4 separate regions of the Homo sapiens genome follow, and all the other regions are reported to be linked to region 1. Evidence: microRNA targets listed by miRTarBase, many of them from high-throughput screens and not tested one by one. Region 1 holds a microRNA gene; each other region holds the end of a gene's coding sequence.

The links. Region 1 holds the annotated microRNA hsa-miR-484 (UCAGGCUCAGUCCCCUCCCGAU, at 3,808-3,829, shown strand). A microRNA usually pairs through its seed, bases 2 to 8, with sites in the 3' UTR of a target mRNA and lowers its output. Matches are read on the target gene's strand: a 7mer-m8 pairs with bases 2 to 8, a 7mer-A1 pairs with bases 2 to 7 and ends in A, and an 8mer does both.
Region 2: the mRNA of KCNJ14 is a reported target of hsa-miR-484. Seed matches in the 3' UTR shown: 8mer at 5,613-5,620.
Region 3: the mRNA of NCAPH is a reported target of hsa-miR-484. Seed matches in the 3' UTR shown: 7mer-m8 at 1,637-1,643.
Region 4: the mRNA of SNRPD3 is a reported target of hsa-miR-484. Seed matches in the 3' UTR shown: 7mer-m8 at 4,980-4,986 and 7mer-A1 at 4,819-4,825.

Annotation. Positions count from the first base shown.
Region 1 is chr16:15,639,494-15,646,612 of GRCh38, forward strand. It overlaps MIR484 (microRNA 484), which reads left to right and starts at 3,801; the gene lies at 3,801-3,879. MARF1 (meiosis regulator and mRNA stability factor 1) reads right to left here and starts at 3,661. Exons shown (of 27, transcript NM_014647.4): 1 at 3,525-3,661. It also overlaps a transcript of NDE1 not described here.
Region 2 is chr19:48,463,499-48,470,617 of GRCh38, reverse strand. KCNJ14 (potassium inwardly rectifying channel subfamily J member 14) reads right to left here. Exons shown (of 3, transcript NM_013348.4): 3 at 3,638-6,437. The coding sequence ends at 5,841. CYTH2 (cytohesin 2) reads right to left here and starts at 1,249. Exons shown (of 12, transcript NM_004228.7): 1 at 1,092-1,249; 2 at 118-265; 3 at 1-15. The coding sequence starts at 1,110. It overlaps LOC105372430 (a long non-coding RNA gene), which reads left to right and starts at 1,085. Exons shown (of 3, transcript NR_186576.1): 1 at 1,085-1,607; 2 at 4,011-4,049; 3 at 4,680-5,207. RefSeq lists a silencer at 1,044-1,233 and enhancers at 597-1,590, 1,784-1,943, 1,648-2,148.
Region 3 is chr2:96,372,588-96,379,706 of GRCh38, forward strand. NCAPH (non-SMC condensin I complex subunit H) reads left to right here. Exons shown (of 18, transcript NM_015341.5): 18 at 705-4,504. The coding sequence ends at 764. Among named protein-coding and RNA genes, the nearest start is that of NCAPH, 40 kb to the left of the region's middle.
Region 4 is chr22:24,570,990-24,578,108 of GRCh38, reverse strand. SNRPD3 (small nuclear ribonucleoprotein D3 polypeptide) reads right to left here. Exons shown (of 4, transcript NM_004175.5): 4 at 3,138-6,193. The coding sequence ends at 6,132. LOC124905091 (a long non-coding RNA gene) reads left to right here. Exons shown (of 2, transcript XR_007068024.1): 2 at 1,049-1,430. Among named protein-coding and RNA genes, the nearest start is that of LRRC75B, 19 kb to the left of the region's middle.

The DNA of each region.
Region 1 (7,119 bases):
GGGTTCAAGCGATTTTTCTGCCTCAGCCTCCAGAGTAGCTGGGACTACAGGAGCCTGTCACTATGCCTGGCTAATTTTTATATTTTTAGTAGAGATGGGGTTTCACCAAGTTGGCCAGGCTGGTCTTGAACTCCTGACCTCAAGTGATCCACCCTCCTCGGCCTCCCAAAGTGCTGGGATTACAGGCATTAGCCACTGCGCCCGGCCAACAATTCAAATCTTAACAAACAAAATAATAATAATAAAATAAAGAAAGAAAAAAACACAAAATATCAGAGCATATTACGGGTTAATAAAATTTGGTAAACTTGGTTGACTGTTTATGCTTAAAATCTAACTGCAACAACCTGATTTCTTAAAAAATCTATAATCTGCCATTCTTCATGTTTCATAGCTCTTCAAATAAAAAATGAACTCTCCATGAGTCTTGTTTCCTTTCCACATGTAACCATGTTTGAGAGAGGTAGCCATATCTTGGAAACTTGCATATTCCAGAGTGAGACTTCACCTCCTCACTTGGCTGGAATCAATTTTTTCTACAGTTTTTCTGAATTCTTTTCGGCTCTCTCTCCCTAAAGATGCTGCTCAGGAAAGTCAAAAGTTAACAGAAGAGAGCATCTAATCTGAGTAAAAGAGCCACCACCACATCCTCATTGACAACTATATGTAAGATTTTAAAATTGACTTAAGAGCAACTTCTTGCACTGGTTTCTTGATCTGAGCATGAAAAGTCCAAACTAAGTGGCCTCTGTGGACTTTGAATTTGATTTGCTACAGAACAAATTGAACCAATTTCTTAGTTTACTAATGATGAAAGTGCAATCTGATATACCACCAAAAATCTAACTGATAGAAAAATCTCAAGTCGCAGATGTGTTATATCTACGCCAGAGCAACAACACTCTTACAGGTCTTAACAATAAATGCAAGCGAGGCACCGTGGCTCAGGCCTGCAATCCCAGCACTTTGGGAGGCCAAGGTGGGTGGATTGCTTGAGCCCAGGAGTTCCCAACCAGCCTGGGCAACATGGCAAAACCCCATGGCTACAAAAAATTAGCTGAGCGTGGTGGTGCATGCCTGTAGCCCCATCTACTCAGGAGGCTATGGTGGAAGAATCACCTAAGACTGCGTAGTCAAGGCTGCAGTGAGCTGTGATTGCACCACTGCACTGCAGCCTGGGCGACGGAGTGAGACCCTGTCTCAAAAACCAACAAACAAAATTACATGAAATTAAAATGTCAGTGTCCATAAATAAAGTTTAATTGGGACACAGACACACTCATTCACTTAAATACTGCCTATGACTGCTTTTGCATTCCAATTGCAGAGTTGCAAAGAGAGTCTCTGCAAAGAGACTGTATGGCCCACAAAGCCTATATTTACTACGTGGCTCTTTTGTCAGCCTGGGCAATATAGCAAGATCACAGCTCTAAAATAAAATAAAGTTCAAAAAATTAGCATAGTGTGGCAGCATGCGCCTAGTCCCAGCTACTAGAGAGACTGAGGTAGGAGGATCTCTTGAGCCCAAGAATTTGAGGCTACAGTGAACTATATTGTGCCACTGGCCCTTCAGCGTGGGCAACAGAGTGAGATTCCATCTCTAAAAAAATTTTTGTTTTCAAGTTTCTGTTTCCTCCTATGCAAAATGTGGCTAATTTCTCCCCGCCACTGCATTACAGAGAAAAAAAAAATTAGATAAATGAACCCCACTGTCTATTTTCACCACTGTATCTCTTGTGCCAACCAAAATGCTCCCTACTCTGTAAATACAAAGTAAACATTACCTACTACACACTATTGGGAGTGGTTAATTTGGAGATGGATTTAACTGCTACCACTGATAGTAAATTACGATTCTTGTCTTTCCTATTAGATACAGGTTTTATGTCCCCCAAAAAACTCCTCTCAAAATCGTAAGAATCTGTGATATTCACAGTGTTCATAACTTAAACATTCTCTCAAACTTCTTCAAAGCCAAATCCTGAAAGTGAGCTAACATTCACAGTATAATCTAGTTTATAAAGTATTTTCACTTAACATTACTTATGTCTTCATTCAGCAAATATTTACTTAGTATCTACTATGCAGCAGGCCTGTGCTTGGCACAAGGAATATAATGATGAAAAAAACCCAGACGGTGGGATCCTCTTATATAATTTTTGCAATAATCCTGTGAAATAGACAGGGGAGAAATTAGCTACATTTTTGCAGAGAGAGAAAAAGAAACTTAATGAAGTTTTGTAGCGAGCCTGACACAAGATTAGGCTTGTTCACCCCTTTCCACTACATCAAGGTGCCTTCAATACTGCTCAATACAAGCGATTAAAAGTAAAAACTTTCAGGTGCCTGCACCCTGAAAACTTCCCAAATACCATCCACGAAGCAACTTAGGTAGCCAAAAGCAGGTTCTGTTTGACTTGAGCGACAGTCTCCTTTCTGTCACTCTCTTCAAGTCTTTTGACCAATTCAATGAGGAGAGCATAGGCTCTGTCGACTGTCTGCATTTTGGTCTCCAATTTGACTGCGGTGCAGCTTTGGACAACTCACAACCTCTCTGAACCTCAGATCCCATCTCTAAAATGGGTGTGATAATAATAGAAACCACCTTACAAGGCCGTTGTTTGGATTACATGAGGTAATCCACGGGGAACATTTAGCAAATGTTGTTTCCTTAGCACCCAATCTAGTCTTTGACCCCACACCACCCCATCCCATTACCGTTTTCTCCCCCATAGCTCTTCTGTCCAAAACGGCCTTTTTAGCTTATTTTATTATCTTTCTCCCCCATTAGGCTATAAACTCCATGACAGCAGAGACTATGTTTTCTTATCCACTATTCCAACTCCTGTCCTTAGTACAATGCCTGGCATATTTTAATAAATAACTGTTGAACGAATAAAGCTTAATAAATAGGAAAACAGTTTAGGTTTCAATACACCGATATGCAAAAGAGAAGAATATTTACCGCTCAGAGAAGTCCAAAAGACACAAATGCAATTGGACAGCTCTTGGTAATACCGGAAAGGTGCTTGAGAAACTCTAAAAGGTGTATCACGAGGTCGCGTTACAACTACTAGTGAGAGTGGCTGAAGCCCTAGACATTGTCAACCCTGAGACTACACCCTATGTGTTGCTAAAAGGCCGAGGAGAATGCAAAACGGCCGGGGAGGGGGGAGTGTGTTGCAAAAACACCCGCCCCTTTCCTTCTCTCTTAACCTTCCAGCTGTGCACTTCACTCCTGGAGGGCCCCACCAGGGGTCAGACAGGGGCGGGCGGGGAGCCAAATGCCCTCGAAGGGGAACAGCGGCGCCAACAGTGACAGTAGTGAATGGACCCGAAAGGGAGACAAGCCAACTCTTTCGTGGGGGGCCCAACTGGCGCGTCCCAGTTAGCTAACCTCCCCTCTCCACCACCATCCCACCAGCAATAGGCGGGGAAAGAGGGGACACTGTCCTCCGTCCCGCCCCGCTGGCCTCGGAGCAGAGCCTGCCGGGGTCTGGTCGCAGGACTGTCTGCAAACTCACCTCTGCCGCCGGCTCCACCTCCGCTCACATTCCGGCCCCGCCGCCTTCCCCCCGCCCCCCCCAGGCCCTTTGTTTTGATTCCCGACTCCGCAGCTCCCGCCGCCGCCGCCAAGCGCACCCTTCACTTCCGCTTCCGCACCGCACCGCCCCTGTCGCAAAACCGACGCCCTTCTCTCCTCTTCGCCCCGCCCCTTCCTCGCCCCGCCTCCGCCGCCGCGTCCTGTCCGCGCGGGGCATGCTGGGAACCCCGGGGGGGGCGGGGCCTCGCGGCCCTGCAGCCTCGTCAGGCTCAGTCCCCTCCCGATAAACCCCTAAATAGGGACTTTCCCGGGGGGTGACCCTGGCTTTTTTGGCGAAAACCCCCAGTTTAAGGAGGCCTTCCCCCTGGCTTCACGTTGTGGAGTCGAAAGGAACCTTGAAGCGGAGAATGAGCTCGTGACGTGGACCCGAGGAAAAAACCTGCCAACCAGGATTTAATAGAATTCAGCTCTTTCAGGCTTTGGAGGGAAGGCGATTTGAACGGGATTTCAATGAAAAACCCTGTCCCTTCGGCTTTTTTTTTTTCCTCTCTCGGGTCTCGTCACGTGATGGTCCTACTTTATTTTTAAAAATTAAATGGCGCATATTCCCCAGCATCCTAAATCTAGTGCAACCTAGTGGCAAGTGGAGAAAAAAATAACTGCCAACCTGGCTTCCTACGAGGTCCCCCGGAGTTCTCGCAAAGTTGCGACCCAGTTGGCAAAAATACAGTGTGTGCAAAGACTCAACTGGACATTGCCACCAAGAATCAAGAGATTTTTGGGGACTTTAGCAAGAAAACGTTATTTTTAAAAGCCCTGCTCCAAAGCTGGTTACAAATGAATACTGCGTTTCCAGTGACAGGTTGGGCGAGCAGAAAGGAAATCTTACGGTTAGTTTCAAACACTTTGTGTTTTAGGTGGCCAGATATGCTGTGTGGTTTGCTTTAAAAAAAAAAATAGCGCCCCACAATCTTCACGTTTCCCTGGAATAAAAAAAAATTTAAGACTCAGCAAAAGGGTGATTTCTGAAACTACCAGCTGATTACTATTTTCTGTTGCAAATTAGGAAAAAAGCAAAGCACATATTGTGTAAGTTAAATCTAGACACGATTTAGGATGTGCTAGCTGCTAGCTAAATGCTACCTTAGGAGTTTATTTTTAAAGTTTGCCCAGAAACAAGTTGACTTTGCAAAAGAATCAGTAAGTCGAAATTGCCAAACGAGAATATTTTGCCCAAAAAAATCCTTACTGGGAGGTTATTTCAATAGGCAATCCCCATTACGTGGGGATTAACACATCCCTGTAAACATCCCTGTAGACGGGTATTGTGGAGGGCAGGATCAGACATGTAGCTGAAGAATCCTTTGTGCCTGTATTTAATTTTCCAGAAGGCAGATGACAAGCACACATCCTCTCCCTGCGTAGGTATTTATTACTGCTGACTAAATCTTGACTGTGGGCTGGGCGCAGTGGCTCAGGCCTGTATTCCCAATACTTTGAGAGGCTACGGAGGGAGGATCTCTTGAGCCTACAAATTTGAGACTAGACTGGGAAACGGTGAAACCCTATCACTATTTAGAAAAGAAAGAAAAAGAAAAAAATCTTCATTATGTCTGTGTATAGGTAGTATTTTCCAAGTGGAGATTAGAATAGATGAAAAACCCGTTTCTAGCGTTTTGGCTTTTTTCAAAGTACCAAACAAATACGCTACTCTTCAGAGGTGTTTTTTCCCCATTTTATTTCAGTTGAGTATGTTTCAACACAAGCCATATTAACTAAAAATCTTAAGAAACAAGGTAATTGTAGGTTTCTAATTGCTTTTTTTAAAAAATAGTTTTTAGCCAGAAAACATCAAAGAATGCAGACACATTTCCTTTTTACTTTTTTTTTTTTTTTTTTTGAGACAAAGTCTTGCTTCATTGCCCAGGCTGGAGTGCAGTGGCAGGATCTTGGCTCACTGCAGCCTCCACCTCCCGGGTTCAACCGATTCTCATGCCTCAGCCTCCTGAGTAGCTAGGATTACAGGCGCCCACCACCATGCCTGGCTAATTTTTGTGTTTTTAGTAGAGACGGGATATTGCCATGTTGGCCAGGCTGGTCTCGAACTCCTAGCCTCAAGTGATCCTCCCGCCTCGGCCTCTTTAGGATTACAGGGCTGAGCCAACGAGCTTGACCACATTTTCTTTATATGTATATTTTTCTTTTAGATTCCTTTTTACCAAGCAGACACATTTTGTTTGACTTAGCTTGGCATTCTTTCAAGTCCAAAGCTGTAACTAGTCACAACAAGTAAATGTAGTGATTGAAAATGGGCGGGGCATGGTGACTCATGTCGTAATCCCAGCACTTTGGGAGGCTGAGACAGGAGGACCCCTTGAGGCTTGGTGTTTAAAACCAGCCTGAGCAACATGGTGTGACACTTGTCTCTATTAAAAAAATTTTTAAAAACAAAACAGTCGTATTAAGTGGAAGGCTAATAAAAGTCTGAATTACAAATACTTTTAAAAGAAATGTAATTTTATTGCTGCTTTCTAAAGACTAGGAGCCTAAGCAAAGTATACCAGGCCTTAGGAGACAATTATGAATCAAAATACATAAATTTTCTCTTAAGATATATTTTAAGTATGTATCCTCTATTAATTGTATTCCTGTTTCTTTGCTGGGAAAACTTTAGAGAGTACAAGTAACTTTCAGTTTTTCCCTTGTCCAAATTATAGTCTTCACATGTATGAAAACCGAAAGACTTTTTTGTGTGCTATTTAAGTAGCTACTTTACATGCAATTCAGCTTTTCAACTAACCAAGCTGTTATTAAAGGAGTTTCTCCCCAGAAACCAATCTTCTACCTGTATTAGGTTCAGTGGTTTGAATTAATAAATGATCATGGAAGGACCTAAGGAAGTTAAATTGAGTTATCTGCTCAGCCATAGTCCAAAGCTACAAGGAAAACAAATTGAATTTAAAAAGAACAAGAAAAACATTTTAAATGTTTTTAAGGTTTTACCCAATGACAAACCTATTTCCCTAAATGTTGTTCCCAAATAGGACTTTAAGGATTATTATTTCAATGCCCTCTCTTTTTTCTTTATGGAAAATTTGGGAAATTGAGAACCAACTAGTTTAAATACCTTGATCAAAGCCATTTAGGCAACACCAGTACCTCATCAGTTTGTGCTTCGGTTTCTCTGTAAGCTGAGGTGATTAGTTCCTGTCCAGAAACGTCACAGAGTGGTTAGGGCCAAATAAAATTCCGAGGGGGGCCAGGCGCAGTGGCTCACGCCTGTAATCCCAGCACTTTGGGAGGCCGAGGCAGGTGGATCACTTGAGGTCAGGAGTTCGAGACCAGCCTGGCCAAACCAACATGGTGAAACCCTGTGTCTACTAAAACTACAAAATTAGCTGGACGTGGTGGTGCACACCTGAAATCCCAGCTACTCAGGAATCTGAGGCAGGAGAATCGCTTGAACCCAGGAGGAAGAGGTTGCGGTGAGCCGAGATCGTGCCACTGCACTCCAGCCTGGGCAACAGAACGAGACTCCGTCAAAAAAAAGAAAAAAAAAATCCAAGGGGGGTTAA
Region 2 (7,119 bases), not on the chromosome of region 1:
CGTTGCAAGGTCTTACTGCAGGAGCAGAGAGCAGGGTTGGGGGTGGAGGGTCAATGCCTGGGCATCCCTGGCCTCAGCCAACCCCACGCCCCCTAGGTCATCCGCCCCAGCCCTCACCTGCCCTCATTGGCCTCCAGCCCCTCCACCTCGCTCATGGCTTCACTGAGCTCCTCCCGCAGGCGCTGAATCTCCACCAGCAGCTCCTGCTTCCGCCGCCGGATGTTCTCCAGCTCCATCCGCTCCTCCGGAGTCAGGTCTGGGGGTTCTAGGGATCGGGGTCAAGGTTTAAAAGTCAGTGCTAGGGGCCGTGAGCCTGAATTCCTGCAATCTGGGGGCGGACAGAGCTGGGAGAGGATGTGTAAGGGGCTTCCTATGTCTGCACAGAAGAATGGGCTGGGGGCCTGGATTCCTCCCTGCAGAGGAGAAAGAGCTGGGGCTCTAAACTCTTGAGTCCTGGGGGACAAGGGGAATTGGGGCCCGGATTCCTGAGTCTGAGGGAGAAGGGGAATGGGTGCCTGAGCTCTTAGATCTGAGGGAAGAAAGGGCTGGGGGCCTCGGCTTCTAGGTCCATTACTTGGAAGGGGACTGAGGCCTTGGTTTTCTGACTCCATTACTGGCGAGGTAGCTGGGGACCTGGTTATCCGGACTACTGGGTCCATGAAAAGTCACTACAGCCGGGGGAACTGATGACAGCTCAGGAGAGTTGGGAAGGTGGGGCGGGACATCGAAGGCCCCCGCCCCCCAAGATTTCTCCCCTCCCCGCAACCCAAGCGCCCCTCCCCGGCCCCGGCAGGCGCTGGGCTCGCCCGCCCCTCCAGCGGGAATGGTTCCGCCCCGGCCTCGCCTCCACCACTCCATCCCGCCCCTCCCGCCGCCACCGGAAACAGGCTCAGCCCAAACAATGGCCTGGAACGCCCGGCTTTCGGGCCCCGCCGGAAGCCCGTCCAGCGCCCAACAAAAGCGGCGCGACAAGTCTACGACTGAGCCGAACGCTTCTGGGCGCCGCGCGCCAGGGGGAAACGTTCGCGGCGGAACGTTCAGGAGAAAACGCTCCAGCAACTCCCAGCCGACCCCGCCCCTCCCCGACCTACCATAGACGCCGTCCTCCATGGCGGCTAGGAAGGCCCGCGGGGAATCCGGGGCGGTCCCGCCAGTCGGGCCTGGATCCGCGTTGGCCCGCGGGCTCGGGTGAGCCCGCTCAAACGCCCCGGGAGCCACCGCCGCCTCCTCAGCGCCAGTCCTCAGCGCTGAAAAGACTCTTCCCTTCGTCGCCCAACCGCCCCTTCAGTAGGGACCGCCCCTCTTTTTGACACTGTCCAATCCACAGTGGGCGCTTTCGTCCTCCCCGCCCTCGCCACCAAAGGATCGTTCTCCAGGGCCAACAGTCGTACAAAAAGCCGGTGTAGGTATGTCCGGCCAGAGGTAGACGGCCCGCGGGGCCAATCGGAGTGCAGGCAGGGCAGCAGGCCCCGCCTCCGAAACAACAGAAAGCACTTGACAGGCTTGCTCTCCAATGAGAAGCCCCGGAAAAGTGTCGCGCGGAGGCGGAGCCACGCGGTACAGCCACCTCTGCGCCTGCTCAAAGGCCCTGGACACTTGGAGTCTAGGTAAACCGAGCCCCGCCTCCGATAATACGTTGCTAGGGGGCGGTACTTTGTTAGTCTTGTTGCTAGGAGGCGGGGCTAGAACTGGCTTGTTTCCGTAAGCCACACCTCCTAGCAGGCCATGCTGGCTTCTGACCGCAAAGGTTGCCATGCAACCGGGAGCGGCTTTAGGCCTCCTTTTCTTTTGCATTTCTTCTCCGCGTATTTCCCCTCCTCTCAGCCCCTTCTTACCGCCGAACTCCTTCTTTATCACCATCTATGCCCTCCCCATCCCCCTCAGCCTCTTCGGAGTCGTGGAGTGGTGAAACAAAAGACTTCTTCGTTTTTTCTTTTTTTTTTTTTTTTGAGACAGAGTCTTGCTCTGTCGCCCAAGCTGGAGTGCAGTTGCGCGATCTCGGTTCACTGCAACCTCCGCCTCCCGGGTTCAAGCAATTCTCCTGCCTCAGCCTCCCGAGTAGCTGGGATTACAGGGTTGCACCATGATGGTGCATGCCTGGCTATTTTTTGTATTTTTAATAGAGACGGGCGTTTCACCATGTTGGCCAAGCTGGTCTCGAACTCCTGACCTCATGATCCGCCCACCTTGGCCCTCCAAAGTGCTGGGGTTACAGGCGTGAGCCACCGCGCCTGGCCAAGATTTACTTTTTTCTAAATGCTATGCTATTTGGTATCGGTCATGGGGAATGGAACAGGGGAAGGTGAAATTTAGTGAAAGCACAGGCTCGGCCTTCCTGGCACCTTCTGCCGCTCAGACTCCTCCCTCATTTCTCCAAACTCCTTCCTTTAGCTTAGCATCCTCCTAAGACTCCTCCCTTCCCCAAGCATCCTCCTGCTAAGACAACTCCCCTTTCCTCAGCATCCTCCCACCTCTCTGATTCCTTCTCCCATCTCAGAGGCCTTTTTTCCTCTCTGGCTCCCCTCACGTCACGGTCCCCCTTGTCCTCTCATACTCTTGCCCTTTTTTTTTTTTTTTTTTTTTTTGAGACAGAGTTTTGCTCTTTTGCCCAGTCTGGAATGAACTGGCATGATCTCAGCTCACTGCAACCTCCACCCACAAGGTTGACGCGATACTCCTACCTCAGCCTCCCAAGGAGCTGGGATTATAGGCGCCCACCACCATGCCCGGCTAATTTTTGTATTTTTAGTAGAGACGGGGTTTCGCCATGTTGGCCAGGCTGGTCTCAAACTCCTGACCTCAGGTGATCCACCCGCCTCAGCCTCCCAAAGTGCTAGGCGTGAGCCACCGTGCCCATAGGCGTGAGCCACCGTGCCCAGCCACCCTTGCCCTTCTTAAACTCCTCCCTCCTCTGAGGCCCCTTCCCCTTCCCCTTCCCCAGCCTCTATGTCCCATTATTTGTAACGGAATGTGGTCAAGGGACTGGCTGGAATAGGGAACCCAGGCACCCCTGTAAAGAGGGAAGCCGTAATGGGGGCTGAAGTGGTGTCTGGGCCTCGTCCTCATTTGCTGTCCCTGGGCTGGGCAGGTGGAGACGGATTCAGGGCCAGGACCTAGTTAAGCTGTCGGATTAGACATGGAGGCTCCTAATCCCCTCACTGACCTTTATGAGTGGCCCAGGCCCTGCCCTCCCCAGTGGAAACCCAGGCTGGGCTGCCCTGCTCCCATACTCCTTTCAAACGAAACCCCCTCCCTGCCCCTTCACTTCCAACTTAACATCCTTCCCCAACCCTGCGTTTCCATTGCCCCCATCCCTACCTACCCCAGACACCCTGAGCTGAGAGAGCAGCCAGCTAATTAATCCCATCCGGTTATTACATGGGGATTCTGAGGGATAAAGGGAGATGGAGAAGCTGGAGGGGGCATTTGGGTTGATGCAGCACTTGTGAAGGCTGAATGGCAATGACAGTGGCTGCCCTCGGTCCAGAACACGGGGTGGGAACACGTCCTCCTCACTGTCACTGGCTCCCTCTGCAGTTGGCTCCCAGCCTGCGGGGCACTTAGGTAGATGGTAGCATGGGCAGGGGGCCAGGTCGGAGGACCCATGCTCGAGAAACACATTCGCAGACACATCCGCTAGGGCTCCCAGTTCTTTAATCTGGGGGACAGGTCTCCCCCTAAAACACTCACTCTCCCACAATGGGAAGAACCCTGGTGTCCAGAGCTACCTCCTCCTCCCCAGGTCCCCAAGCTAGGCCAGGGAAGTGACTCTGGCTGTTAGCCACAGCCCACGCCTACCCTTGCCCTGTGATTCAGACACCCGAGTTCAGAGCCAGCCTCCAAGAGTATCTTACATCCCAGCGTCTCCTGGAAGGCCGTATGATCCAGCACTGGGGAGAGGAGGGAAATCCCCAGGACTCGAATGCCCATCCCACCCTTGGTGTAGTGAGGACTCATCCTGCTGGAAAGGCCCCTGAAGAACTTCAAGTTCCAATATCCCGTTTTTACAGATGGGGAAACTGACATGAAGAGGAGTCCAAAGTGACACAGTAAGTTGGGGCAGCATTGGGATTTAGAGCAAAGCTTCTGGGGTCCTTGAAAAGGACCTCATTCCAATTAGCTAGCACTCCATCTCTAAGCCTGTTGTAGGGACCAAGGGAAAAAATAGATAGATATCTGTATTTATATTACATATATATAATATACATATGTATAATATCTTTAAGAAACAGACACACGGCTGGGCATGGTGGCTCACACCCGTAATCCCAGCACTTTGGGAGACCGAGGCAGGTGGATCATCTGAGGTCGGGAGTTCAAGACCAACCTCGCCAACATGGCGAAACCCCGTCTCTACTAAAAATACAAAAATTAGCCAGGCATAGTGGCTCATGCCTGTAATCCCAGCGACTCAGGAGACTGAGGCAGGAGAAACACTTGAAGCCGGGAGGCGGAGGTTGCAGTGAGCTGAGATCACGCCATTGCACTCCAGCCTGGGCGGCAGAGCGAGACTCAGTCTCAAAAAAAAAAAAAAAAGAAAAAGAAAAAGAAATAGACACACATCACTAGGTGTAGGGTTCCAGAGCATTCTAGACTCACCAGCCCTGGGCCTCCCCCTTCCCTTGTCCACTAATTAGCCCTGTGCCCTACAGGGTCTCACCTTCACCTTCACCTTCCAGGTCAGGCCAGAAATGTTGCTTCTGAAGTCCTGAGTCCACCTCCTAGCACTGCCAAGCAGTCCACCTGGAGGTGATGAGAACTTCCAGGCTTTGGTAATGGACAACTCTGTATCCCTGGAGCCTTCATTCCTTTTGGCATTACAGAACCACAAGAAGTCATCTAGAATCATTGAGATTCTCAACTCCATTGGGCAAACTGGAACCAGCAAAATCTCAGATATCTAGAATTGCCACTGCTTCCTTGACTCTGTGATCAGTCTACAGCCACAGAATCCTGATTCCCTTTGGACATTCTAGAATGGCACTTTAAAAAAAAACAACCCACCCAGTGGATCCTTTCAAAGCACTGCTTATTCTCTTGGCTGGGTGCTCTACAGCCAGAAGTTGGAGTTATCTAATATCAAGAACTCTTAATCTGTCACTTCAGTCTTTCTAAACCCACAGACTAACAATGTTTTGTGCATTCTAGAAACATTACTCTTTAGTTTCTGGAGTAGTTCAACTCTCCACGTAAAATCTGTCCTAGACTCACCAGTGCTTGCCTCTGTGGTCAACCTAGACTCACAGAATCTCAACTAATGAGCTTTCTGGAACCACAGGTCTTTTTTTTTTTTTTGGTCTTTGGTCAATCAAGATGATCTTGAATACTTGGGGCATTCCATAACCTTCCCTCCTTAGGTGGTCTAGAACAAATGATTTGCTACTCAGTTGGCTGAGTTGAGAAGCAACACTCCCTTGAATCTTAGGTGAATCCAGACCTACAAACTCTTGATATCTGATGCTGTTCAAGAACTGCCAACTTGCTTCCCCAGAGGCAGTCTATACCATTGGCTTCTCACCCTGGTCAACAATCCAGGTCTCCCCATATAGAGGAATCTAGAACTGCCAGTCTTTTCCTCTTGGGTGATCCAGAATTCTGGTGAGACTGAGGAATCAGGCTCATAAAGGGTTCTCAGGAGGGAGCACAGAAGCAGAGGAATTAAGGTCCAGTATGTCCATGGTGGGTCACCAGGCATGGCAGAACCTTACCACCTAGTCATTTACCCAGCAGGCCTGTCGGTATTCAGGAACACCTGCCCCCATCCCAGGAGAGAGCCCCATCCCTCCATCTTGCTACCTTGGGGAAGGGGGCATACACGGGGAAGGGGACATCAGTTTGCATCATGGAGGCAGGGTCAGCGCCAGGGTTGGTGTGAGAACTCGGGGGCTAGCAGCCCCATCTTCTGTTTCCACCCCATTCCCTTCCTCAGTCTCATCGTCCTCATCTTCCTCCTGGCAGCAGCTCAGAGCAAGTTCATTCTCATAACAAAATGCAGTCAGAGAGCCGGGGAAACTAGACTTGAGGCTGTGGGAAGCCTGCTCTGCCCGTTCATCCAGCTCCTTAGCACTGCAGACCGGTGTCCCTGGGACCTCATAAGTGCGATGGAAGTGGCGATAGTCGACCTCATACTGGGAGCCACGCTGGAAGAGAACTGGCTCAAAACGATGGCCCCAGAGCAGTTCACCAGGGAGGTAGGACGAGCGACACTGTGTGGTCATGGCTGTGGCCTCAACCATCCCCTCGAGAATGACCACCAGCTCAAAGTCAGCCCTGGCCAGCTCGGCACGTCCTAGCTCATACAGAGGACTGGCAGAGTCGATCTCATGGACGATGGTGATGGGGGACACGAGGAAGATACGATCGGTGCCTCCATCAAAGCCCACATCCACATCCTGGTGGTCCAGCGGGATGTACTCACCCTCTGGGGTCACACGGGGCTGCAGCAGGAGGCGAGGAGCCAAAGACAGCAGGGAGCACAGAGACGGGCAGAGACGAAGTGAGAGAGAGGAAGAGATGCAGAGAAAGAAGGCAAAGACCACAGGAGTGAAGAAAAGGGTGAGAACACAGATCAAGAGATGGGGCCGGCAACCCAGAGAGAGAGGAAGTCAGAGAGGCAGGGGAGGGCACAGAAACCCAGTAAGGGAGCCAGAGACCCAGGAGGGGAGGATGGAGGTCCAGAGAAAACATGGGACATGGGACAGAGACCCAGAGATAAAGAGAGAGGAAAGAGACTCAGGGTTTGGGGGTAGAAAACGGGAAGAGGGGCGTGGTGGGGGAAGAGGAGAGAGGGACAGAGTGATATTGGCATAGAGACACAGAAATCAGCAAGACAGAGATGAAATCAAAGCGACAACGGAAAATAAGGATGACATTCAACAGAGAATTGGAGAAGGAGCGGGAGAGAAAAATGGCTTTTAGTATGTGGCCAGAGAAAGATAAATCAGATGACAAGAAGGGGGAGTTAGGGCAACCTAGGTCCAACATTCTGCACCCACCACTGCCTCAGGCTTATCCCTGGGCTCTCCCCTGAGCTATCCTAGCTGTCAGGGCAACTGCAAACCCTTCCATGTCATTCTGTGTGTGAGCACGCTTTGTGGGGGTGTGGGTATTTCACCCCCG
Region 3 (7,119 bases), not on the chromosome of region 1:
CCTGCCCCGGATCTGAACCGTCCCTGTGTCCAACAGATCCACACTGCAGACGTGGCTCTCCCATTAGTCACTTGGTAGCCATCTCAGTTCCCAGGTCAACTGTTGGTGGTACTGCAGTGCTTGTGTTCCATTCCCTCTTATTTGACTTAATTTTTCTATTTTATTATTAGTTATTGTTAATCTCTTACTGTGCCTAATTTGTAAATTAAACTTGATCATAAGTATGTATGTATAGGAAAAAACAAGGTATATTTGTGTATACATATATATAAAAATCATATATGTGTATTTGATTTGGTACTATATGAGTTCAGGCATCCACCGGGGGCCTTGGAACACCCCTCGAGGATAAGGGGGGACGACTGACTATATGTATGTGTTGTGGCTCCTCATGACCTCCCATCTGCCTCCATTAGCATCTTCAGGGCAGACGGCTCAGCTCTTAGGCCCTTTATAGGGGGTGGGTTGCAGGAATCAGAGCCAGAGAAGGCTTGCTTTTTGCTTTTTCACCTAAGTCATTTTGTTATAACAAGGATTGGGAATCAGGTTTTTCATGCAAATTATACTTGCTATGAAACAGTTTTTCTTATAATCATGGGACAAACTTTCTTCTTTGTAGTCACTACCTTGTGACTGTGATTGGAATTTATGATTCTTTTATTCTCCGTATACCAAAGTCCATGCATGTTTTGGTCTTCCCTCAGAATCTAAAACTGGAAGGAACAGAGGACCTCTCTGATGTTCTTGTGAGGCAAGGAGATTGAGTTCACTATGGAGAAGTCAGCAGCAGGAGGCCCATCCCTTACTCAGTTGCCGGGACATCCCCAGTCTCGGGGGAAGAAGATGCCATGGGCTTATACCCAGGCTGTAGCCAACTACCAACGTGCCTGTTTGTTTGTTGCTCTTTCCTTCTCTCCATCATAGTCTGGGTGCCAGCGCCCTGAAGCTCCGTGCTCAACTGATTAAACTTTACTGCCCTATGGTGACCATCTAGGAGAGGGGAGGGCAGAGGGGGTGAGGGTACTATTCTGGATTGAGAAAACCTATATCCATTCTTTATATCAATGTATAGTTTTAGTCTCCTAAATTGATCTGTTATTTTCCAAACTATTCTCTTGTAGAAAATTTTCCAGTGGGCACTTAATGGTGCCCTTGAAGAACTTCCTAATCCATGTACATAAAATACATCATATGTACACTTATAAATGTATATAGAATGCTCAAAAATAAAATTCTTAATAATAGAACTGGCAAAATATTTGAGTGTCCACTAGATGAGTATCAGACCTAGTCCTTACCCTTAGGGGGATGCAGTCCTGGTTGTTATCCAGGATACACACCTGTCAGTATAAGGCAGAAGATGCCTAAGGGCCAAGATGGTTTGCCTCGGAGGAGAATGGAAGAGAGAGATTGCTGACTGGACATTCAGATGCAAGACTGGGTCCTGCTTAAATCCCAGGATTCTGCTGGAGGGAGCTGATAGTGATACTTGTCCCTTCTGTACATTGCTTCATGTAGCCTTCTCAGCATCCCTAGGAGAAACTTACTATTGTGACTCTCATGTTGGAGGAGGAAACGGACACCCAAGGTAGAGGAACTTGCAAAAGGGCAGCCGGCAAACTGTCAGGGGTGGCCTGAGCCTGGCAATCTGCCTCCAGAGTCTGCTCTCGGCCATTGTGCTATGTGCTACCTGGATAGGTCATACAGGCTCAGCAGTGGGTGGAGAGCAGTGCTCAGATTTGTCCATCTCCACAGAATGCAGCACACACACAAATGTACAAGTTCTTCCCCTAACCTCAGAGGAATAGGGGAATTAACTTTGCTTGCAATTTGGAACAATATTATAGATGTTGATCCAAGTAGTTCTGTTACTGGCTGGTCCTGGATCTCTGCCAGAACACCCGTCATCATTGACTGGCTAAATAGAGATCTTGGATATAGGCCAGAAGCAGTGAAGTATATAATTGGAAATTGCTCCTGATAATAACTTCCTTCTTAGCCAAAAACCACACAAAACAAAAATAATCCCCTCCCCACAGGAATATGCTTTCCAAATTGTGTCCAAAACATTACCTGCTCTGTTATATTGAGAAGGTTAGAGACTTCAGAGCATGCTTAGAAAAAGCAGTGGTGCCACAGGTGAGACTCCACACTCTGTCTTGCTGGGGCTGAAGCCTCCATCACTTTCCCAGGCCAGGTTAGTGCTGGGCTTCTTGCTTTCCTTCTATTCCTGAGAGTAGAACTGGCTAAGCCCATTCCTTCCCTCAGTCAGCCCCACTTCTCTATAGTGGGTTCTGGGGGTGGGGGGCTGAATTACCAGTAAAACTAGAAAGATTGGGACCAAGTGCAGTGGCCCACACCTGTAAATCCTAGCGCTTTGAAAGGAAGAGGCAGGAGGATTGCTTGAAGTCAGGAGTTCAAGACCAGCCTGGGCAAAATAGAACCCCATCTTTAAAAAAAAAGTTTAAAAATTAGCCAGGTACGGAGGTGTGTGCCTGTAATCCCAGCTACTCAGAAGGCTGAGGTGGGATAATCACTTGAGCCCAGGAGTTTGAGGCTGCAGTGAGCTGTGATCACACTACTGCATTCCAGCCAGGACAACAGAGTGAGATCCTATCTCTTAAACAAAAAAAAAAACTGGCGAGTTCAATACCAACTTCTACAATGAAATCCCCTTCCCCCCACAACCCTGCTTCTCCTAAGTTTCCCTCATTACATGGTTGCTGTGGGCTATGTGTGCTGTGGTCTGAATGTTTGTGTCTAAAATTCACATGTTGGTATTAAGAGATAGGGCCTTTGGGAGGTGATTAGGTTATGAGGGCAGATCCCTCGTGAATGGGATTAGTGCTCTTATAAAAGAGGCCTGAGGAAGCTTGTTCGTTCCTCTTGCCCTTCTGCCATGTAAGGATGCAATGAGAAGGCACCATCTGTGAGCAAGGAGCCCCTCACCAGACAGCAAATCTGCCGGCGTCTTGATCTTGGACTTCTCAGCCTCTAGAACTGTGAACAATAAATCTATTGTTTATAAATTAAGCAGTCTAAGTCATTTTGTTATAGCAGACAAATTGACTAAGACAGTGGGTATGCAAGATAAGTTTATTTTATATAAAATACTTTGGGAAGTAGGTGTTCTAGGACTGGTGTGACAGTTCCATGAAATTATGAGAGACCGGGGATCCTTCCAGCTCATCCTTCTGTTTCAGTGTGGCTGCTGGAATCCAGCCATCACATCCATAGTCTAAGCAGCAGGACGAAGGACTGGGGGAAAAGAGAACTGCTGCTCCCTGTTAAATCAGTTTCCTGGGGGTCGATATGAATATTTGCCACCTCAGGGTGCCACAAAGGTCCCCACCAGCAAGAAGGCTCCCACCAGATATGGACTCAACCTGGGACTTTTCAGCCTCCATAACTGTAATAAATTCCTTTGTCAGTTACCCAGTTTCAGGTATTCTGTTATAGGTAACAGAAAACAAACTAATACAAGTGGTAATGTGTCCAGCTAAAAATTTGGGTTCTGTTAAGGTTAAAAGAAAATTTGAGGTAGCCAGCAGTATCTGCCTCAGATGCTGAGAAGCCTCCTGAGATAAGAGCGTATACCATGTCCATAACTGAAGTTTTAACATTCTCTGCCAAACAGAACCAGAATTTAAGGGCAGGAGAATTTGCAAGATAGAATTTGCAATTTGCAAGAGGGAATTGCAATTTGCAAGAGAGGGGCAATTTGCAATTTGCAAGAGAGGGCAATTTGCAAGAGAGAATTGTGGGGCCCTGAGAGAGAATACATCCAAAGGAAGAGGGAACCAGGCATTACAAATTGAATTGAACAAGGACAGATATCTGAAGGGGGTTTGTAGTTCCCAGTAAAGTATGGTACAGCTAGGTGCACTTCCCTGGCCAGACCACCCTACAGTGTATGATCCCCCTGGGGAGCAAAAGGCTGCAGGTAACACTTTGGTGCCCTAGAAATTCTGCTGTGGTGCAACTATAGTGGATCACAGGCAGAGTGGGGCATTGTTCCCCTTCTTAGCACAGGATACTGGGTCATTTCAACACCACAAGGATTTGCAGCATCTGCGGCAACGAGTTTGGTGTCCTGGAGCAAGGAAAGGAACCGTTCATGGTGGCTGAAGCCAAGCTGCTCAGCACTGAGGCAGCAAGCCATGATCTAGGTCTTCGAGTAGAATTCTCAGTTTTGGTTCATTTAAAAATGTTTTTTGGGGGAATTGGGGATCATTTATGGGTACCAAAAGAAAAAAAAATGAATAAGATCTACTATTTGATAGCACAATAGGGTGACTATAGTCAATAATAACAATTGTATATTTTAAAATAAAGAATGTAATTGAAAAGAGTAAATGCCTGAGGGGATGGATACCCCATTCTCTGTGATGTGCTTATTTCACATTGCATGCCTGTATCAAAATATCTCATGTACCCCATAAATATATGCACCTACTATGTACCCACAACTATTTAAAAAATAATAAAATTTTAAAAAATTGTCTTTATGTTGCCTTTTTTTTTTTTTTTTTTTTGAGACGGAGTCTCGCTGTGTCGCCCAGGCTGGAGTGCAGTGGTGCAGTCTTGGCTCACTGCAAGCTCTGCCTCCCGGGTTCACGCCATTTTCCTGCATCAGCCTCCCGAGTAGCTGGGACTACAGGCGCCTGCCACCATGCCCGGCTAATTTTTTTGTATTTTTAGTAGAGACAGGGTTTCACTGTGTTAGCCAGGATGGTCTCGATCTCCTGACCTCATGATCTGCCCGCCTTGGCCTCCCAAAGTGCTGGGATTACAGGCTGCCTTCATTTTTGAAGGACAGCTTTACTGGATGTAGAATGCTTGGTTGATAGGTTTTTCCTTTGGCATTTGACTGTCTTCCAATGTCTTCTGGCTTCCATAGTTTCTGAAGAAAGGTAGGCATATACTCGTCACTATTCCTTTGTATGTAATTGCTGTTTTTTTTTTTCCCAGACTGCTTTCAAGATCTTTTCTATATCTTTGGCTTTCATCAGTTTAACTATCACATATCTAGGGGTAATTCTCTTTGTGTTTATTTACTTAGGATTTCTTGGGCTTCTTAGATCAGAAAATTAATACAGTGAGTTCCCATGGTAGCCATGTTCTATAAAGTCTCCGCAAGCACAGAATTAGCAAATGCTGAACCATTGCTCCTAGGTGAGATACAGGGTTAGCTTCCTGTGAGCCTCTGGTCAAAACATTTTCATCAACTGGTTAACACATAACCTTGTTTTATGTCTGCTCCTATTTAAAGACATTTAATATATCTTACAAATTAGAGGCAGTATTTATTAAAATAAAACACTAGCCAAGAAGGATTTAACATTTTCCTGGCCATGGGTAACACGACTGTAAATTTATTTGGCTTCTATCCTCACAAGAGTACTGTCCACTTAAAAAAAAAAATCATCTCATGAATCCACAAATTTAGCTGCTTTTTCATTCCATTCCATAGCTACCTCATACACTGTAGATGTCATAATACTTTAGCATTTTCTGGAATGGCTTCATGTAGTATAGATTGGCAAATTTCCTCCTTTGTACTGTACTGTTGGTTCATTAACATTGAACTCATAGCTAACAGCACTTTGAATCATGCCTGAATGAAGCCTATGTAACACACCTTTCATCACAACCTTCTTGCACTTAGCAGTACTTAAATGGGTGATCTACCCACCTCAGCCTCCCAAAGTGCTGGGATTACAGGCGTGAGCCACTGCTCCCAGCCTGGACTACTTCATATTACCCCACAGATCTTGGAGTTTCTATTTTTGCATATATGTGACAACTTTATTGAGATATTATTCATATATCATACAGTTCACCCATTTAAAGCCAGCACTTCAGCAGTACACTTAGGAGCCATTTTAATCAGCAAAATCACCAACAAAAAGAACCAAAATGGCTGGGCGTGGTGACTCACGCCTGTAATCCCAACACTTTCGGAGGCTGAGGTGGGCGGATCGCTTGAGCCCAGGAGTTCAAGACCAGCCTGGGCAACATGGCAAAACCCTGTCTCTACAAAAAAATACAAAAATTTGCTGAGTGTGGTGGTGTTGTGCCTGTGGTCCCAGCTACTCACAGGGCTGAGGTGGGAGAATCATTTGAGCCCAGGAGGTCAAGGCTGCAGTGAGCCATGGCTGCACCACTACACTCCAGCCTGGGTGACATAGCGACGGACCTCATCTCAAAAAACAAACACCAAAATGTGAAAAATATGGCACTAAAGAGACCCCAAAAGGCCACTTGTTTGCAGTATGAAAGCTGAAACAAGAAGGCAGAGTGTCACCTTGTTCAGCCTCAGATGGGAATATGTGCGTTGGGCAACTCAAAGTTCTTGCCACTCTACGTACATTCACAAATATCTGGGATTGCCAGCCAAGATGGCCGAATAGGAACAGCTCTGGTTTACAGCTCCCAGCATGAGCGACGCAGAAGACGGGTGATTTCTGCATTTCCATCTGAGGTACCAGGTTCATCTCACTAGGGAGTACCAGACAGTGGGTGCAGGACAGTGGGTGCAGCGCACCGTGCGCAAGACGAAGCAGGGCGAGGCATTGCCTCACTCGGGAAGCGCAAGGGGTCGGGGAGTTCCCTTTCCTAGTCAAAGAAAGGGGTGACAGACAGCACCTGGAAAATCGGGTCACTCCCACCCTAATACTGCACTTTTCCGACGGGCTTAAAAAACGGCGCACCAGGAGATTATATCCCGCACCTGGCTTGGAGGGTCCTATGCCCACGGAGTCCCCCTGATTGCTAGCACAGCAGTCTGAGATCAAACTGCAAGGTGGCAGCAAGGCTGAGGGAGGGGCGCCCACCATTGCCCAGGCTTGCTTAGGTAAACAAAGCAGCCGGGAAGCTCGAAATGGGTGGAGCCCACCACAGCTCAAGGAGGCCTGCCTGCCTCTGTAGGCTCCACCTCTGGGGGCAGGGCACAGACAAAGAGACAGCAGTAACCTCTGCAGACTTAAATGTCCCTGTCTGACAGCTTTGAAGAGAGCAGTGGTTCTCCCAGCATGCAGCTGGAGATCTGAGAACGGGCAGACTGCCTCCTCAAGTGGGTCCCTGACCCCTGACCCCCGAGCAGCCTAACCGGGAAGC
Region 4 (7,119 bases), not on the chromosome of region 1:
TTAAGGTTATGGTTCTACCAGTGTAGAAGCTGGGATAGTATCAGTGAATCAAGTGAGTCCACATCCACCCTTGTACAGATAACCAACCAGAGGCTGGGAGAGGTGGTCACGGTGGCACTCAGAACCAGAATTCATGTTTTTGGTTTTTCTTTTTCTTTTTGAGATGGAGTCTTGCTCTGTCACCCAGGCTGGAGTGCAGTGGCACAATCTCGGCTCACTGTAAGCTCCGCCTCCTGGGTTAAAGCAATTCTCTGCCTCAGCCTCCTGAGTAGCTGGGATTACAGGCACCCGCCCCAACACCTGGCTAATTTTTGTATTTTTAGTAGAGATGGGGTTTCACCATCTTGGCCAGGCTGGTCTCGAACTCCTGACCTCGTGATCCACCTGCCTCGGCCTCCCAAAGTGCTGGGATTACAGGCGTGAGCCACCGTGTCCTGCTCAGAATTCATGTTAAATACTGGTCTAATTACCTTTATGACATCATCCTTTAGTCTATATCTTCTTTAAATCTGAGTTATTCTTTTTTTTTTCTTTTTGAGACAGAGTCCCGCTCTGTTGCCCAGGCTGGTGTGCAGTGGTGCGATCTCAGCTCAATGCAACCTCCACCTCCTGGGTTCAAGCGATTCTCCTGCCTCAGCCTCCCCAGTAACTGAGATTACAGGCATGTGCCACCACACCCAGCTAATTTTTGTATTTTTAGTAGAGACACGGTTTTGTCATGTTGGCCAGGCTGGTCTTGAATGCCTGACTTCAGGTGATCTGCCCACCTCAGCCTCCCAAAGTGCTGGGATTACAGGCATAAGCCACCACCCCCAGTCTTATTCTTCATTTTAAAGTAATATATTTTCAAAGAAAAAAAGCAAAAGCATGCTGAAACATTCATATTTCCACATGACCTGACTTCCCCAATCTTGGCAAAAAAGTTGGAAGCTTATTCTCCAGAGGGGGTTAGAAGGTTTCTGGACTAGGAGCCCTCCCAGAGACCTGGATGAAGGAACTGAATGTGGACATACTAGAATGCTGAAATTCTCACCCTCTTCCCCAACAGAGCTCTCAATCCAGCAGCTCAGAGTAAACCCTCCTGATGTGAAACCAAAAGTTTCTCCAAGAGAACCTGTCCAGCCTGGAGCAAAGTTCTAGAAGTATGGACACTGGGGATTTCCCCAAAGAAGCTCAATGAGATCACCTTACAATCACATATTCTTTTTAATACTCCACTCTTAAATATAAGCAAGATTACCAACGATTGCCAGGCAGCTAAAGAAAGTCTGTAACATGAAAGATTAAATTGAAGAACAGAAAGCAGAAAGACATATGCAGGGAGATGAAAGCTTCTACAGAGCATATTAATATCCTCAAAGATGTTGCAACAAGGAACAAGGTACTGTCCCTATATATCTACGTATATAAAGGAACAATCAGAGAATCAACTTGGAGTAATCCTCCATAAATTATGATCAAAAGAAAAGAAAATTGGGGTTGGGGCACACAGGGAGGAGAGGTAATTCTGGGTCCACCATCTGAGTAACAGAAATTCCAGAAAGAAAAACCACAGACAGCCGGGCCTGGTGGCTCACGCCTGTAATCCCAGCACTTTGGGAGGCCAAGGCAGGTGGATCACCCGAGGTCACGAGTTTGAGACCAGCCTGACCAACATGGTGAAAATCTGCCTCTACTAAAAATACAAAAAATTAGCCGGGTGTTGGGGCAGGTGCCTGTAATCCCAGTTACTTGGGAGGCTGAGGCAGGAGAATTGCTTGAACACCGGAGGCAAAGGTTGCAGTGAGCCGAGATGGCACCATTTCACTCCAGCCTGGGCAACAAGCGTGAAACTCAGTCTTTAAAAAAAAAAAGAAAAAGAAAAACCACAGACAACCTAAGGAAGAAAATCACTGAGAATGAATTCAAGAAAGTTTCCCAGAAATTAAGGACAAGAGTTCACTCGGAAAGGGGCCTGGCATGGAAACAGACCTTCGCCAAGGCAGGTATTAATACGTCATTCTGAAATTTTGGAACACTGATAACAGAAGGGAAAAAAAAAAAAGTCATATAAAAAGGATCTGGACTCTGGCCGGGTGCGGTGGCTCACGCCTGTAATCCCAGCACTTTGGGAGGCCGAGGTGGGTGGATCACACAGTCAGGAGATCGAGACCATCCTGGCTAACACGCTGAAACCCCGTCTCTACTAAAAATACAAAAAAATTAGCTGGGCGTGGTGGCGGGCGCCTGTGGTCCCAGCTACTCGGGAGGCTGAGGCAGGAGAATGGCATGAACCTGTGAGGCGGAGCTTGCAGTAAGCCGAGATCGCACCACTGCACTCCAGCCTGGGAGACAGAGCGAGACTCCGTCTCAAAAAAAAAAAAAAAGATCTGGACTCAAAATCACTTCAGACTTCTCTACAGCAATGCTAGATGACAAAGTAGCCATAACTTCAAAATTCTGAAGGATACTAATTCCTTTTTTTTTTTTTTTTTTTTTTTTTTGAGACGGAGTCTCACTCTGTCACCCAGGCTGGAGTGCAGTGGTGCAATCTCGGCTCACTGCAGGCTCCACCTCCCGGGTTCATGCCATTCTCCTGCCTCAGCCTCCCGAGTAGCTGGGACCACAGGTGCCCGCCACCACGCCCAGCTAATTTTTTTGTATTTTTAGTAGAGACGGGGTTTCAGCGTGTTAGCCAGGATGGTCTCGATCTCCTGACTGTGTGATCCACCCACCTCGGCCTCCCAAAGTGCTGGGATTACAGGAATGAGCCACTGCGCCCGGCACTAATTCCAACATAGAATTTCATACCCAATCAAATCAAGTGTGAGCACATTTTTAGACATGCAGATACTCCCCCAAAATAAGGTGATAAAAGAAGAGGTTACACAGAAAACAGAGATCCAACAGAGGAGCAGTGTGGGGAGTGCCCAGGGTGACAGTGACACACCAAGCACGGGGAGAAACCAGTCCAGATTGGGGTGGGTCAAGAATAATAACTGATAAATGATGTCATGATCTTCAGATATGATTGGGGTTGAATTAGTGACAAATAGAAAACCAAGCAAATAAAAATGCAAGAGGATTACTTTCAGGGAAAAGTTCCACAGTAATCTAGTCTATTGTATGACTCAGCTGTGATCACTATGACACTGTCATATTTTTAAAAAGTTTAATCACATCTTAATAATTTGACACTGAATATGATCTAACCAGAATTACAATATCAGGGAGATGGGTGAGAGGAAGTAAATTCATGGTGGGCAGGAGGAAGAGAGGATTCAAAAGATAATGGTGGCCGGGTGCAGTGGCTCACACCTATAATCCCAGCAGGCCGAGGCGGGCAGATCACTTGAGCCCCGGAGTTCAAGACCAGCTTGGGCAACATGGCAAAACCCTGTCTCTACAAAAAATACAAAAATTAGCTAGGCATGGTGGTGTGCACCAGTATTTCTAGCTACTCAGGAGGCTGAGGTGGGAGAATCACCTGAGCCCGAGAAGGTTGAGGCTGCAGTGAGCCATGATTGTGCCATTGCACTCCCGCCTGGGGAAGAGTGAGACCGTCTTAAAACAAGCAAACAAAAAACCATCAAGGAATAGTCATGAAAACATGTTCATATTGAGACATGGAGGTAAATACAAACAAATCAGCCAAGAGTTGGACAGACTACTGTGAGGCAAGGAAAGTGGGGTAAAGGCAGGGTAGGAGGGCTACTGTTTTTCATAATAAACCTTATGGAACAACTTGTTTTCAATCTGCGTCAACTGATTTTCCCCCCTAAGATGCAGGATATAAAACTGTTTACAAAGCTACATATTTTAGGTTGATCCCCCTTCACTTTTCAGATCTAGGTAGGGTTATAGCCAGTTTCCATTGCGTGGAGAATCTGCAAGGCTGGTGTTCCTGTACGGGTCCAGAGTGAACTACATCAAAAGTCGCTTTTGATATCGAGGATGCAGTTCACTACTATTAAGTGTAATGTGTTATTATTCAAAGTAAGTACTGTTTACTGTAAAAGTATGATGAATTCAGTAATGATTATACTAAAATAACATACTAGTACAGGGTCAAAATACGGCTTTAGGTCTACTTAAGATAGAATACTTAAGAATTACTTATCTGGGGACCAGGGAATTGTTTAAAATGCAGATTCCTGGGCCCCACTCCAGGTGTGCGGCTTGCAGTCTTCATTTCTAATAAGATCCTTAGTTGATGTTGAAAACCACTGCTTTCATTTGTTTTTTATTTAAGAGACAGGGTCTCACTGTCATCCAGGCTGGAGTGCAGTGGTGCAATTATAGCTCACTGCAGCCTTAATCTCCTGGGCTCATGTGGTCGTCCTGCCTCAACCTCCAGGATAGCTGGGACTGCAGGCATCAGCTGTGCCCAGCTACTTTTCAATTTTTTGTAGAGATGCGGTCTTGGTTAACAAAGCTTAACAGCCCAGGCTAGTCTCAAACTCCTAGGTTCAAGTGATCCTCCCGCCTCGACCTCCCAAAGTGCTGGCATTATAGGCGTGGGGCACCATGTTTGGCCTGAAGCCCTATTTTAAACGTCTATTGTATCTGACCAACTCACTGATGCTTATTCCTCAGAATACCAGCTCTGTAACCTCCAGGTAGTATCATAAGACAAAGCTTATTAGAACCTCATTAATTGATGCCAGGTTAACTAATGTGCTGGATTTTTTTCCCCTCCTCTTTCATTACTTGAATAATCTGTTCAATGAGCAATATTCTAAAAGCCAATAATTGATCAGTTTTCCTCTTGATGGCTTATGCTGTAGCTCATACCATAATGAATACCTGGCAAGACCTCTTTTTGGTGATTTGATTTTTTCAGGCTGCTTTTCCAGTTTCTGTGTTTTTGTCACAATTATTCACCCTGTGTATCTTATACTCTTTACTACTACTTATTTTTCTTTAAAGACAAAGTCTTGCTCTTTTGCCCAGGCTGGAGTACAGTGGCAAGGTCATAGCTCACTGCAGCCTCATACTCCCAGGCTCAAGTGATCCTCCCACCTCAGCCTCCCTAGTAGCGAGGACTACAGGTGTGCACCACCATGCCAAGTTAATTTTTAGAATTTTTTGTAGAGACAGGGTCTCACTATGTCTCGCGGGCTGGTTTTGAACTCCTCTCAAACAATCCTCTACCTCAGCCTCCCAGAGTGCTGGAAGCAAGCCACTGTGCTGAGCTGCTGGTCACCCTTCCTACATTAACAACTATGGATGTGCCAATCAATGCTGAGATGCTCTGATATGCTCCCAAGAATCTGTTTCCACAAATCACCACAAAACTACTTGTTGTAGCCAGTATACGAGCCAAGGAAGCTGGCCACTAGGATCCCCTGAATTACTTTTTTTTTTTTGAGGTGCAGTCTCGCTCTGTCACCCAAGCTGGAGTACAGTGGCATGATCTCTGCTCACTGCAATGTCCACCTCCTGGGTTCAAGCGAATCTTCTGCCTCAGCCTCCCGAGTAGCTGGGACTACAGGTACATGCCACCGCACCCGGCTAATTTTTTTATTTTTAGTACACACGAGGTTTCACCATATTGGCCAGGCTGGTCTCGAACTCCTGACCTCGTGATCCGCCCGCCTTGGCCTCCCAAAGTGCTGGGATTACATGCGTGAGCCGCCGCACCCAGCCCCTGAATTACCTATGACTTTATCAAGGGAAAGAGTCACCTGTGTTGTTAAAGCTGAGCTGATGACAGCTCCACAAATGTTAACTGAACAAAGTGCCACACTATGTGCCTGTGTCTGAAGATGAATGAGACACAATCTGTGTGTTCTCGGAGCTTCTCCAAGGTGAACTTTTCTGGGGCTTAACCTGCAACTGGCCAGGAACAGCAGCTTAAAATCTCATCAATAGCTGTGCTATTTCAAAGTACTGGCATTCTCCCAGGACATCCCCCAGGGTGTCAAAATTTAGCCAAAGCAAACTTCAAATGAACACAAAGTCCTTATTTTCTCAAAGAAAACAAAACAAAACAGAACAAAAAACCCCCCAGATTTATTTAGCTTAAACATTTCCCCTGATCTAAAGAGAAAGATGGCAAAAGATACCTAGCATATATGCACAAGCACCCACTCCAATGAACTCAGATAACCTGAAAGAAAAAAGGACAAAGTTCTGTTCAACTTAGAAAATTATCTTCGCTTTTGAAAGATGTTTCCACGTCCCATTCCACGTCCTCTTCCTCTTGCGGCCACTGAAAGGGAAGAGAAAATATGAGGCCAGGTCAGTGTGGTCGGTGAATGCTCATAGCACAGAGTAGCCAGGGCCCTAGGACACCAGTTAGAAGGGTTCTGAAGGGTTACCTGGTCCAACACCACCCTGGCCATTGCATTTCCACCTCCCGCCTTTTTTTTTTTTTATTTTTTGAGACGGAGTCCCACTCTGTCACCCAGGCTGGAGTGCAGTGGCATGATCTCGGCTCACTGCAATCTCCACCTCCTGGGATTAGGCGATTCTCATGTCTCAGCCTCCTACTTGAGTAGCTGGGACTACAGCCGTGAACCACAACGCCCGGCTAATTTCCTGTATTTTTAGTAGAGACAGGGTTTCACCATGTTGGCCAGGCTGGTCTTAAACTCCTGACCTCAGGTGATCCACCCACCTCGGCCTCCCAAAGTGTCAGGATTACAAGCATAAGCCAACACGTCCAGCTGACAGCCACTGCATTTAACAGGGGGGATGGAGACGGAGGGGCAGGGGCTGGGGACTGGCATCAAAGCAGGAGCTAGCAGCACACTCTTGCCTTCCAGTCCCACACTGCTCTCTACAAGAGGCTGGGAGGCAGCATGCTGAGGGCAAAGAAGGTGGTCTGAGAGCTACAGAAAAGACAAATCCTTGGGGCTGGCCTTGGGTGAGCTGAAAAACATTATAGATGCACTGAATTAATTTTTTCAATTCTGAAACAAATATAGTTAAGTGTTAACATGTGTTAGATCTGGGAGAAGGGTTATATTATCTTTTGTATTTTTTTCTGAGAAAATAATTATTTCAGGCTGGGTGCAGTGGCTCATGTCTGTAACCCCAGGGCTTTGCGAGTCCAAGGCAGGCAGATCACTTGAGGTCATAAGTTTGAGACCAGACTGGCCAACATGGCAAAACCCCTTCTCTACTGAACACACA